3 linked regions of the Homo sapiens genome follow. The protein of the gene in region 2 interacts with the protein of the main gene of each other region in a pairwise test. Each region holds a gene or a part of one and is shown on either strand. Other genes may lie near its edges.

What was found.
Region 1: the proteins of SKAP2 (region 2) and EEIG1 interact in a protein complementation assay, tested with the Homo sapiens proteins (one study listed by BioGRID).
Region 3: the proteins of SKAP2 (region 2) and FGR interact in a protein complementation assay, tested with the Homo sapiens proteins (one study listed by BioGRID).

What each region holds. Positions count from the first base shown.
Region 1 is NC_000009.12:127,974,390-127,977,989, reverse strand, and holds part of EEIG1 (early estrogen-induced gene 1 protein), read left to right. Parts: intron 1-3,600. UniProt on the Homo sapiens protein: Key component of TNFSF11/RANKL- and TNF-induced osteoclastogenesis pathways, thereby mediates bone resorption in pathological bone loss conditions.
Region 2 is NC_000007.14:26,862,435-26,866,254, forward strand, and holds the start of SKAP2 (src kinase-associated phosphoprotein 2), read right to left. Parts: upstream 2,157-3,820; 5' UTR 1,996-2,156; coding exon 1,929-1,995; intron 1-1,928. UniProt on the Homo sapiens protein: May be involved in B-cell and macrophage adhesion processes. In B-cells, may act by coupling the B-cell receptor (BCR) to integrin activation. May play a role in src signaling pathway.
Region 3 is NC_000001.11:27,633,299-27,637,118, forward strand, and holds the start of FGR (tyrosine-protein kinase Fgr), read right to left. Parts: upstream 1,888-3,820; 5' UTR 1,767-1,887; intron 1-1,766. UniProt on the Homo sapiens protein: Non-receptor tyrosine-protein kinase that transmits signals from cell surface receptors devoid of kinase activity and contributes to the regulation of immune responses, including neutrophil, monocyte, macrophage and mast cell functions, cytoskeleton remodeling in response to extracellular stimuli, phagocytosis, cell adhesion and migration.

The sequences.
Region 1 (3,600 bases), on a different chromosome or scaffold from region 2:
CTGGAGTTGGCTACTCACTGGCTGAGTGACATTGGGCAAGTTACCTAAGCTCTCTGATTGCAAGAACCAGCTACCATTGGTGCTGGGCTCCCTGTTTTACTAGCACCTCTCACTTAACCCCTGGACTGTGTCATGGAGCAGGAGTGGAGGTGGGGGCCCCATAGGATTATTATCCCCATGTTAGAGAGGTGGAAACAGGCTCTGAGAGGAAATGATTTGCCTGAGTTGATTCAGTGGAGCCTGCATTCAACCCTTTTGTGCCTCTGAACTTCAGTTTCCTTTTCTGTAAAATGGGGATGTCATACCCACCTCTAGAGTACAGATAATCTGTGTGTTATGTCTCGCCCAGGCACACTGCCGCAGCAGTTATCGCTTCTGTTGGTAGAGGGGCCCAGGCTGGGGCCCAGCCCTTTCCGGGTCTTTGGTGGGCGGTGGGGTGGGGACCAGATCCAGTCAGCAGGGGGCCTGTGTGTGAGCTGGGAGTGGGGACAGGGTCTTGGATCCCATTGAGGAATATAAATTTTGAGCCCCAGGCTGAGGACTTGCCTGGCCTCCAGGCCCTGGAGCCACTGTCTCCCTACCTGTTGGCCTTTCCATTGCCCAAACCTGCTTCCCCATTAGGGAAAGTGTGGGAAGTTCCAGGTCTTAGTCCACAGGGTCTGGATTTCACCTCTGTTTTCCCTTCTTCCTCCTGGCAAGGGGCCTTAAATTGCCTGAATCCAGCTAAGCCCAAAGCATTTCCCAGCCCTGTCCTGCATGCAACCTGAATGGGGCTGAGGAGGGAGGAACTGACACTGAGCTCTCGCAAAGCTGGGCAGTTAGTGGCCACCAGGCACCTGTTTGCTGTTGGGTAGGTGTGGCTGGAGACAGCAGACAGTGACATTGGAACCTGAGGCCAGTTTAGAGCTGCTTTGGTGTTTGCTGTGTTTTTGCCCAGTAGACGGGGGTTCCTGGGTTCCTGGGTTCCTACCCCCTCCACCCGTACCCCACCCACCCTGGACTGCAGCCTGGGAACCCCGCTTCACAGTCTGCCCCTCTAGACAGCAAAGGCCCCATTGTTTCCAGGTTGGAGTAGGGTCTGGGGGAACTGGACCTGGTTAGATCCTGGACCCAGATCAATAGCATATTTCCCCCACCCCCAGGAACCCCCGAGATGGCCCAGAGACCTGGTGGTGGCAGCATGGGTGGTGTCAGTGAAGCAGGCCCAAGGCCCCACCCCTACAGCACCTGCCGTCCTGGCTGGAGTATTTCCCTGTGTGCTGGGTGCCTTGGCAACAGCTGGGTACACCGCTCGCCTGACCCAATTTGAGCAGGTAGAGCAGGTGGTGCATCAGGCTGTTGCTCAGCCTCATCTTCCTGAGGCCTCCTTGAGAGCAGCGATCCTCACGCTGCTGTGCTCTGAGCTCCTGCACTCTGTGCCAGGCAGGGTGCTGACTGTTTTGCAACTGGTATTTCCATGAATCCTCTCAGCCATCCAGAGAGGCACCAAAGCCAGAGAGGTGAGTGCCAGAGGTCACCCAGGTGGTAAATGGCAATTCGGAAATTAACACTTTTATCGTTCTATAAAGCGCCCTTGATTGTACGCATTCTGTATGCTAGGGGCTTGCCTAGCCCCTCAAATAGATGATTATTTGAGGCCCTGCAGTCACCTACCCCATGGGCTGATGGCATTACCCCACTTACAGGTGAGGAAGCTGGGGTCAGGACAACTGAAGTGACTGGGTCTGTGCTACTCAGCTTGAAATTGCAGAGATGGGATTTGAATTTGGGCAGGTCCAGCTCTAAGGCCCTGTCTTGCCTTGATGGCAGTGGGCCGGAAGCAGCTGCAGACCCGTGTGACAGCCCCAGACCTTTGAGAAAGGCTCCATTCCATGGATTGGGTAGTTCAGGAAAGTCCAGAGCTGAGCAGTTAGGAGGCACCATGGTAGGTTTCGTGAGGTCCAAGGAAAAGTGTCCCCAGGACCTTTCAGGGGGTGGGGCTGAAGTCACTGCTGTGGATTTGGGGCCAGGCCTGGGCTGGCACTGGGGCATGGTGAGCATTTGTATTCTCCCAGGCATATGTATCCACATAGGGGGGCCTGGGAGGCTTTCCCAGGGGTCCCGGGAGGGAGGAAGAGGTCCTAGCCAAGTCTGGTGAGTCGGGGAGCTGCCATCCTGTCCAAGGCAGCCCTTGGGCAGGAAGAATCTCAAACACCCAAGAGATCTCTGCTTGCAGCTGGCACCAGTCCTGTGTCTGCCTCATGCACGTGGCTGGTGGTGCCAGGGGAGAGGAGTACAAGGGAGGCACTGACTTACCTCATAGCAAGTATTTTCTGGAGGAGATGGGCAGAGAGCATTTTCTCAGCCAACAGATGGGGAAACTGAGGCCTGCGGCAGAGAAGTGACTTGCTACGGCCACTTACAGGAGGAGCTGATGGCGTAGCTGAGTGGACTTGGGCCTGGCTCTGACCTCTGTCCCCTGTGTCTTAGTAACTCTCTGTATGAAGGAGGCAGGCTGGGCCAGAACGGGGAGGGGGTCCTTCTGGGGTCCTCTTGTGCTCTGTACTTGGGTGCCAGACTGTCCAAGAAACAGACAGCCTGTGACTTGGAGGCCCCTCTTCTGGCCTTTCTTCTTTGGTAGGCTTGAATCCTCAGTGGGCTTTTGATTTGGGCAGTCTTTGGTGGGCGCGTGGCCGCCCACCACAAAGATGCTGCCTGCCTTCCATGGCACGGCTGGGATGGTGGCCCCGGAGGCACAGGTGGGGTTCTTTTAGTATGAAGAAGGCCTTGGCCAGGTCAGTGCCGCGCTGGGGGCCCCACGCCAGGCCCAGTCCCTGGGGAGGCCAGCCTGGCCGGGTCTTTCCTCACACTCCACACACTTGTGGCCAGAGCCTCCACCCCCCTGGTCCCTCACCCGCCCTTCTAGGAAAAGGCTGTGGAATGCTGGTTGAATCCACCTCCGGGGGAGGCCTGCTCACAGGCACAGTGTGGAGCTCCAGGAGGGCAGGATGGAGATGGACACAGAATTCTGTCCCTTGGAGCTGAGTGGAGCAGGGGCCGTGGAGGTTCGATGGGATTCTTAGATTGGCAGGGCACCCACTTTCCTTCACAGAGCAGGAGCTCTGGAGGCTGAGCACACTGGAGAGGGAGAGGAGGCTGGTGGGCACGTGTGCCTGTTCCACTTTCCCTGAACACACGCTTTGTCTTGGGCTTCTGGAGGTGATCATGATTAGACAGCCCTGTTTCCATGGAGCTGCCAGCTAGGTGGGGGCAGTGAGCTTGGTGGGCATCGTGAAAGCTTCAGAGCAAGGCAGATCTAGGGCATATCCTTCTGCATCCCACTGGATCCCGGCAGGCAGCTGGGGAGGCATTTCCGTCCAGGTGTCTGTCCATTTATTTGACAGATGTGGATTGAGCACTTAACTCAGGCTGGGCATGGTCCTTGTCCTCATGTGGCACATCACTGAGTTAGGGAGAGCTTCCTGGAAGAAGTGACCCTTCCTGGGAGCCTTGAAGGCAGAGGGGAATTGGACAGGAAAGAGATCGGGATAAGCCTTTGGCATAGAAGCCCCTGGCCAACAGGCACTTGTTCCCAGGGTCAGGCGAGGAGCTGGGGTATGG
Region 2 (3,820 bases):
ATTCCAAAAGTTTTAATTGTAATATTTTTTAATACTTCATGTGTGTTTTAATATGTGATTTGCTTTAATAATATAAAATAGTGAAAATGTCAATAAAATGACTTAAAATAATTTCAGATGCTATGCTAGTATATTACCTGACTAAAGAGAGAAGGCAGAAATATATTGGAAGTTAGCATTGGCAGATAATTTAAATATGTAATTTTGAGTTTTTAGTTAAATTACACAAATAAGGGCCACAGGAAATACTTGTGATCTATGGGGATAAGAGAATAAAGGTTCTCATGACCTACATATCATATTATCTGTGATTTATGATTATGGATCCAAATAACAAACTGTACTATGGGAGGTACCAAGCTTTAAAACATGCACCCAGAGGTCTATATGTTATTTCTTAAATTCAAAAATACAGACATAGAATATCCTGAAAATGGTTTCATCTATTTTTGGAATAATGATAAACATTTTTCTGCGCTGGTTATTACAATAATATTCTGAACAAACAATTCCAGCATTGTAAAAACAAAAAATGTTAAGTGTAGTAAAACAAAATCAGTAGTCATGTGATGCAATAAAGCTGCCTGAAGTCAGTCTTTAGACTTCTTTAACTATTTCCCTTAGTGGTACCCGTTAATGACAACAAGCATTTCTTAGAGTGAAAGACTATCCCACCACAAATGCATTCAACATACTGTACCATAATCATACAAACATAAGTCTACATTCATACACTTAATATTACACTACCATATTAATAATGCCAAGCACCAAAATTGAATGACAGAATATTAGGAGATTTGGACTCACATTGCTATAGGAGTAACATATAAAATGTGTCATCAAATGTCACATTTTAGATGACATTGCTTTTTAAGAGCTAGAATAAGCAATCTGTAATCTAGTTATTCATAAGCAATACTGAGAGATAAATATTTTATAGACATCTAAAACTAAAAATCAAAATTCAGTTTCCAGAATTCTGACGTACACAAGACAAAATAAATGATGGTTGAAATTCCAGAACATTGAGATAGGTAAGATTTGTGCTACCTTAAAAACATATATTTTCTACCTTGTACAGAAATATAAATTATTGGTTCTTAGTGAACATACACACCTCCGTATCCAGTAAATTAATGAACTAGTAGTGGATTCATAATGCTACTGAAGAACCACGTTTTTAGCTCCTAAAATAAGTTCCTATAAATGGTAATGTAAAACTGAAAAAGGGAAGATAAGGGTACAAAGATGAAGTACTTTCATCGTGTCACACAGGAAGTAGAACTTTAACATATCCTTCCTTTTTTGCTTTAATATATTACTGAGGCTGGGGACAAGTGGCCATTTGAGAACCAGACCTTCTTCAAAAGTCTTAAACGTGAGTGAGCTGAATGTTTAAGAAAAACGGGAGTTTTAGAAATGACAAACTCTTTCACCCCATAACCCCTAACACCTGTGGCTCTGACAGCTCTTTGCATCTCTACATCCTCTACCTCCATTGGCCAGACCACCCAAGAACTACTTATTTGACTTCTGCTCCCTTCTGCTTGCTCACGCAGCATTCATTATCATTATCATTCTCTCTCCCTCTTCCACTCTTCCTCCCCCGCCCTTCTGTCACACACACACACACACACACACACACACCGTCTTCACAATGCACATAGAAACGTCCTGATCCCATTTGTGTAGATCACCAAAAAGGGCTTCGCCACCATCCCCGCACCAAATTTCAACACACACGTCCACTCCCTTTCTGAGACAAAACAACCCCTCTCCTCTCCTCCCTGTGCCGACCCCACTGGCTAGAAGACGTGGGAAGCGCGGGGAGGGAGGATAAGGGCTCTGAATGCTTCTGTCCCCACCGGCTCACCGTTCCCTCGCCCCCGCCCCGACAGCATTATCGCCGCCTTCCCGCTCTTTACCTGCCAACAGGTTCCTAATTTCCTCAGGGAGGGGGTAGGGAGAGGAGGTGCTGCTGGGGTTGGGCATGTTAGGGAGCGCAGGGCGTGCGGGGAAAGGACCTGCGCTGAAAAGGTGACCGACGGGGTGGGGCTGCGGCTGCGACCTAGACTCAGGCTAGCGGCCCGGATTAAGAACAGCGGGGCTACGAGTCGGGACACTGCCGGGCCGGGGCTCACAACAAGGAAGTCACTGAATCTCCAGCGAGCTGCAGCTGGACTGTCGGCCCAGCCCCGCCCAGAGGGCCGGGGCGGGGAGATGGGTGGGAAGGGACACGAAGGGCCTGAGGGGTCCAACTGCGCATGTGTATTCCTCGGTTTTCCCGGCCCCAGAAGAAAGAGCCTGTGGGCAAGCCACGCCCACCGCTACGCCGGGAAGCAGGAGGAGGAGCCACTGGTGGGAAGGGGGCGGACTGAGGCTGCGTCACCTGATGCTGCGTCACCTGATCCAGCGTCCGGAGCGCCTTACAGCCATTTTCGGTACTGGTGCCATCACAACTGCTGATCGTTTCTGCAGGATTCCAGAAAATAATGTATCCATGATACAGAGTGTATACAAGTTTTGCGATTACGCCTTCTGCGTAACAGTCAGTCCCACCGCAGTTTAACCCACAAGGAATTTTCTCTTGTCCTAAACTATTATGGCCTTCTTTGTCCGATTGAACGGAGGTAACGAAGTCTCGTCTTCCGCCAGTCGTCCGGGCGAAGCCAGTCTGGAGCCGCTCCGGAGCGCGCGTTGTGATTGGCTCTTACATTACTTTTCTACCTAATTCGTATCCTTGGGGTGACAGATTTTCCCCACTACAAGGAAGACTGGGAAGTTCTAAGCACCGTCCTTTGGCAGGAAAAAACAAACAAAACAAAACAAAAAAACAGAAGGCCGAATAGACATTGGCACCACTGTCCATCTACAAGCATCAAAAATAAAATTGCTGGTGGTGGTTAGTAGAATAAAATTATAAAATCTGCTCACTCCAACTTGACCATTTAGTCAACAAATACTTACTGTCTTCTATCTGTAAAGCTTCTTAAAAGTTTTCTCTTTTAAAAAAAATGGCTTCTTTAAAACCTTTAACAGGCATACATCTTTGTGCTTCCCAGATATTGCATTTTTTAACAAATTGAAGGTTTGTGGCAACCCTGCATCAAGCAAATCTGTGGGCGCCATTTTTCCAAAAGCATGTGCTCAGTTCATGTCTCTGTCACATTTTGGTGATTCTAACAATATTTCAAACTTTTTCATTATTATTGTATATGTTATGGTGATCTTTGAAGTTACTATTATAATTACTTTGGGACATCACAAACAGCACCCATATAAGACAGCGACTGTAATCCATAAATGTGTGTGTTCTGACTGCTCTACCAACCCTATACCTTCCTCCATATCTCTCCCTCTCTTGGGCCTCCCCATTCCTTGAGACACAACAATATTGACATTAAGCCAATTAATAACCCTACGATGGCCTCTGAGTGTTCCAGTAAAAGAATCATTTTACTTTAAATCAAAAGCTTACTTTAAATCAAAAGCTAGAAATGATTAAGCTTAGTGAGGAAGGCATATTGAAAGCCGAGACAGACCAAAAGCTAGGGCTCTTGCACCAAACAGCCAGGTAGTGAATGCAAGGGAAAAGTCCTTGAAGGAAAGTAAAAATGCTACTCCAGTGAACACACGAATGATAAGAAAGCGAAGGAGGCTTATTGCTGGTAAAGAAACGTTTTCATGTTCTGGATAGAAGATCAAACCAGACATAACATTCCCTTAAGCCAACGCCTAATCGAGTGCAAGGCCCTAACTCTCTTCAAGTCTACGAAGGCTGAGAGGTAAAGAAGCTGCAGAAGAAAAGTTGGAAGTT
Region 3 (3,820 bases), on a different chromosome or scaffold from region 2:
TCCCATCTGTGAAGTGGGAACAGGGTCCTGCTCTCCCATCATCACCACAGTCGGAAGGATGCCAAGGACATCAGGGCCCCTGAGAGTACACACCCGAGGGGCGGCCAACTGGATGCAGCACCAGAGAGGGTGTGAGACAGATTTTAACTCTGCTGACCTCCCCAGTATGGGCTCTCATCAGAGCCATAAACTATTTAGACGCCAACTGTGTGCTGGTCCCTGGAGGCCCTGTCAGTGAGAGCCGGGCAGTCTGGTCCCCCTCCATGCTTTTTGTTGTTGTTGTTGTTTACAGACAAAATCTCACTCTCTCATCCAGGAGCTCTCACTGCAGCCTTGAACTCGTGGGCTCCAGCGATCCTCCGGCCTCAGCCTCTGGAGTAGCTGGGACTACAGCAGGTGCCACCACTTCCAGCCTTCTGGCTAACTATATTTTTTTGTAGAGACAGGACGGGGGTCTCCCTGTGCTGCCCAGGCTGGCCTCCTCTGCATGTTTTTGAGAAGGTGAAGGGGAGGCTCGCTGAGTCAGGGATAGCCCTTAACCCTTCAGGACACTCAGCAAAAACTGCTTTCTGCACCTGATTCTCGTGGGGGAAGAGTGGACACAAGGATCATTTCTCACCATAGTTCAGATGAGGAAAGTGAGGCCCAGAGAAGCCCTGTAACTTGCCCACAGTCACACAGCAATTAAGGGCCCAGTCTTGCTAAGAACCCAGGTCTCTCAAACAGCAGATCCTCCACCCCAGGATCCCTGAACACAGCGGCATCGCCTCCTACCTCGGTCGGGAAGCCCACCCCCCACCCACCAGACCGAGGATTCCAAAAGGGGGCGAAGGCGGAGAGCAAAGGGGGCTGCGCCCACCCGGAGCCCCGCGGCGGCCCAGCGCGGCCCGCCCTCTCGTTGCCTTGGAGGCAGCCCCTGCGGGCACTCGCGGTCAAAGGCAGGATTTCCGTCGGGGCGGCAGCAATTCCCGGATCCAGCGGGGAGCGCGGGCCGAGACCGCCGCGGGCGCGGAGGGGGCGCCCGGAGAGGCCTGTCCCTGCCGAGGGCGGGGACTTCCCCAGGAAGCGGGGACCCACGCCTCGCGCGCCCGGCAGGAGTCCCCTGCAGCCCGGAACCTACCGCAAGGGCGGGCCGAGAGGGTCGCGGGGCCGCGGTCGCGGCCGCTAACGTTACCCTGCGGGCTGTGGGCTTCACCCCGACTTCGGCCGGCTCGGAAGAGGGGAACTTCCTGGACCCGCAATTGCACCCCAGGTTCTCCGTCCTCCAGAAGTCGTTCTCCTCAACCCCCTTCCCGCCAGCTCCCTCTCCTGTTCCCTCCAGCACCCCCACCCATTTCCCCTCTCCTGGACCCATCAGACCCGTCGGCTTCTCCCCAAAGTCCCACTCTCACGATCCCTTCAGTTTCTCCCCCAGACCGTCCTGGGGATTCCCCTTAATCCTTCTCCCCCACCTCAGCCCCCTTCCTAAACTCTTATCAGTCCCCTCCATTTTACCCACTAGACCTTTTTGGGGGTCCCTTTGGTCGGCTTCCCCCGTGCTCCCCTCCGCCCTCTCCTCCAGGTTTATCAGCCTTGCTTTTCAGGTCGCCCGTTTTCCTCCTTAGGCCTTTTCGGGCTGGGGTCCCTTTGGCTGTCACCTTGCTCATGTGTCCCCCGACCCCCAGGTTCAGGCTTCTCTTCCCGTGTACCCCCAGTCCTCTCTCCAGAGCCTCGAGGGGGAGGGCACTGCTTGACCTGCCCAGTCCCCACCCGACGCTGTCGCTTACCTGGAGCCCAATTCTGCCCGGCCCCGGGGTGAGCCAGCCGGGGCTCCAGCAGCCGCGAGTGCCGGCGTGCGGGGAGAACTGGGGTGCTGCCCGCCTCTGACCGCCGCCCCTGCTGGGCAGGGAGGAGGAAGCCGCCTCGGACTTCTCTTATTGCAGTCACGGCCGGCGGGCGGTGATGGTGGCAGGGAGACAGTCACGCCCTAGCCCCAAGCCAGCTCCCCGCAGCGAGGAGGCGCCCCCAGATCCTAGGCCCACCCGCCCCCACCTTCCTCCTCCCTGGTTTACGGGAGGTCGGCTCTGTCACCCTCCAGACCTGAGTCCCCAGCCCGGCCTTCCCAAAAGCCCCCTCCAAAAGCGCAGTTTCAGCACCCCCGAAGCACCTGCTCTTTTAGGATCATTGAATTGGAGGTTAAGAGGGGCTTTTCTCCATCACTGAGGACCAGATCGGGACTGGCCTTACTCGAGTTCTCACAGCCAGTTGACTTCAGACTGCTGTCACCAGAGCCACTGGACATGGATCACATGGACCCTGTCAGCACGCCTTCCCTTCCTCAGGGGCTGAGCACTGGGGACACAGGGCTGTTAAGGGTGGTGAGCAGCAGAAGACCCTTCCCTTAGGAAACTGCCTTTCAGAGGAGTGGGAAGGGTGTCAGCCTCCCCCAGGCACCCAAGTTTTAGAAAAACTGAGTAACTGGCTGGGGGCAGTGGCTCAGCCTGTAATCCCAGCACTTTGGGAGGTTGGGTGGGAGGATTGCTTGAGCCCAGGAATTCCAGACCAGCCTAGGCAGCATAGGGAGACACCATCTCTACCAAAAAAAATTTTTCTTAAGTTAGCTCGGTGTGGTGGTGTGCACCTGTGGTCCCAGCTACTGCAGAGGCAGAGGTGGAAGGATCCCTCGAGTCAGGCAGGTCGAGGCTGCAGTGAGCTGTGATTGAGCTACTGCACTCTACCTTGGGTGACAGAGCAAGACCCTGCCTTAAAAAAAAAAAACACAAAAAAAGAATGTGGGTTTTGTTGCAGAAAATGACTTTTTTTAAAAAAAAGAAAGAAAAGGCCGGGTGCAGCGGCTCACGCCTGTAATCCCAGCACTTTGGGAGGCCGAGGCGGGTGGATCACGATGTTAGGAGATCAAGACCGTCCTGGCTAACACAGTGAAAGCCCATCTCTACTAAAAATCAAAAAATTAGCCGGGCGTGGTGGCGGGCGCCTGTAGTCTCAGCTACTCAGGAGGCTGAGGCAGGAGAATGGTGTGAACCCGGGAGGCGGAGCTTGCAGTGAGCCGAGATGGCGCCACTGCACTCCAGCCTGGGCGACAGAGCGAGACTCCGTCTCAAGAAAAAAAAAAAAAAAAAAAAAAAGGAAGAAAAACTGAGTATCTTAGAACATGTGGAAAAAGATTTTTAAAAACAAAAAGAGAAACGGTAGCATCCTCTATCAGTTCCAGTCTCTCTGTCTGATAGGGATCCCTGACCCCTCCTCAATCTGGGGTTCAGTCCCCACTCCCACCACTGTTACTTCAGCCTTAAAGCAAGAACCCGGAATATCCCTCCTGTCCAGGAGAGGAAGAGGTGTGGTGGGGAGGGCTGTTTGGTGGAGAAGGATGTGTCTGTTGGGATGTGGTGAGAGGCAGGGAGAGTGTGCGTAAACACAGAAGTGTGTGTGTGTGTGTGTGTGTGTGAGAGAGAGAGAGAGAGAGAAAGCAATGACATGATGACTTTGCTTTTGGAATCAACAACTAGGCCATGGTGTGCAGGCAAGTGTGTTTCTTTGTATGGGCAGGGGCATGTGGGGATGTGTGTGTGCATGCGTACACATGCTCAAGTGTGGCCCAATGTGCCTGGGGTAACAGAGTGGTGGGATGGAGATAAGAATGCTTTTCTCTTAGGAAATGGGAGGAGGGATGAGGAGGAAGACAGAGGAGCCAGTGGCAGTGCAGGGTCTCTGGAAGAGTGGCTTCACCCTAGCCGGGCAGCATCACCTCCGCCATCAAATGCTCCCTGCCTGGCCATCGGCCCACATGTTCAATTAGCAAACAAGCAAACGTTTATAATTG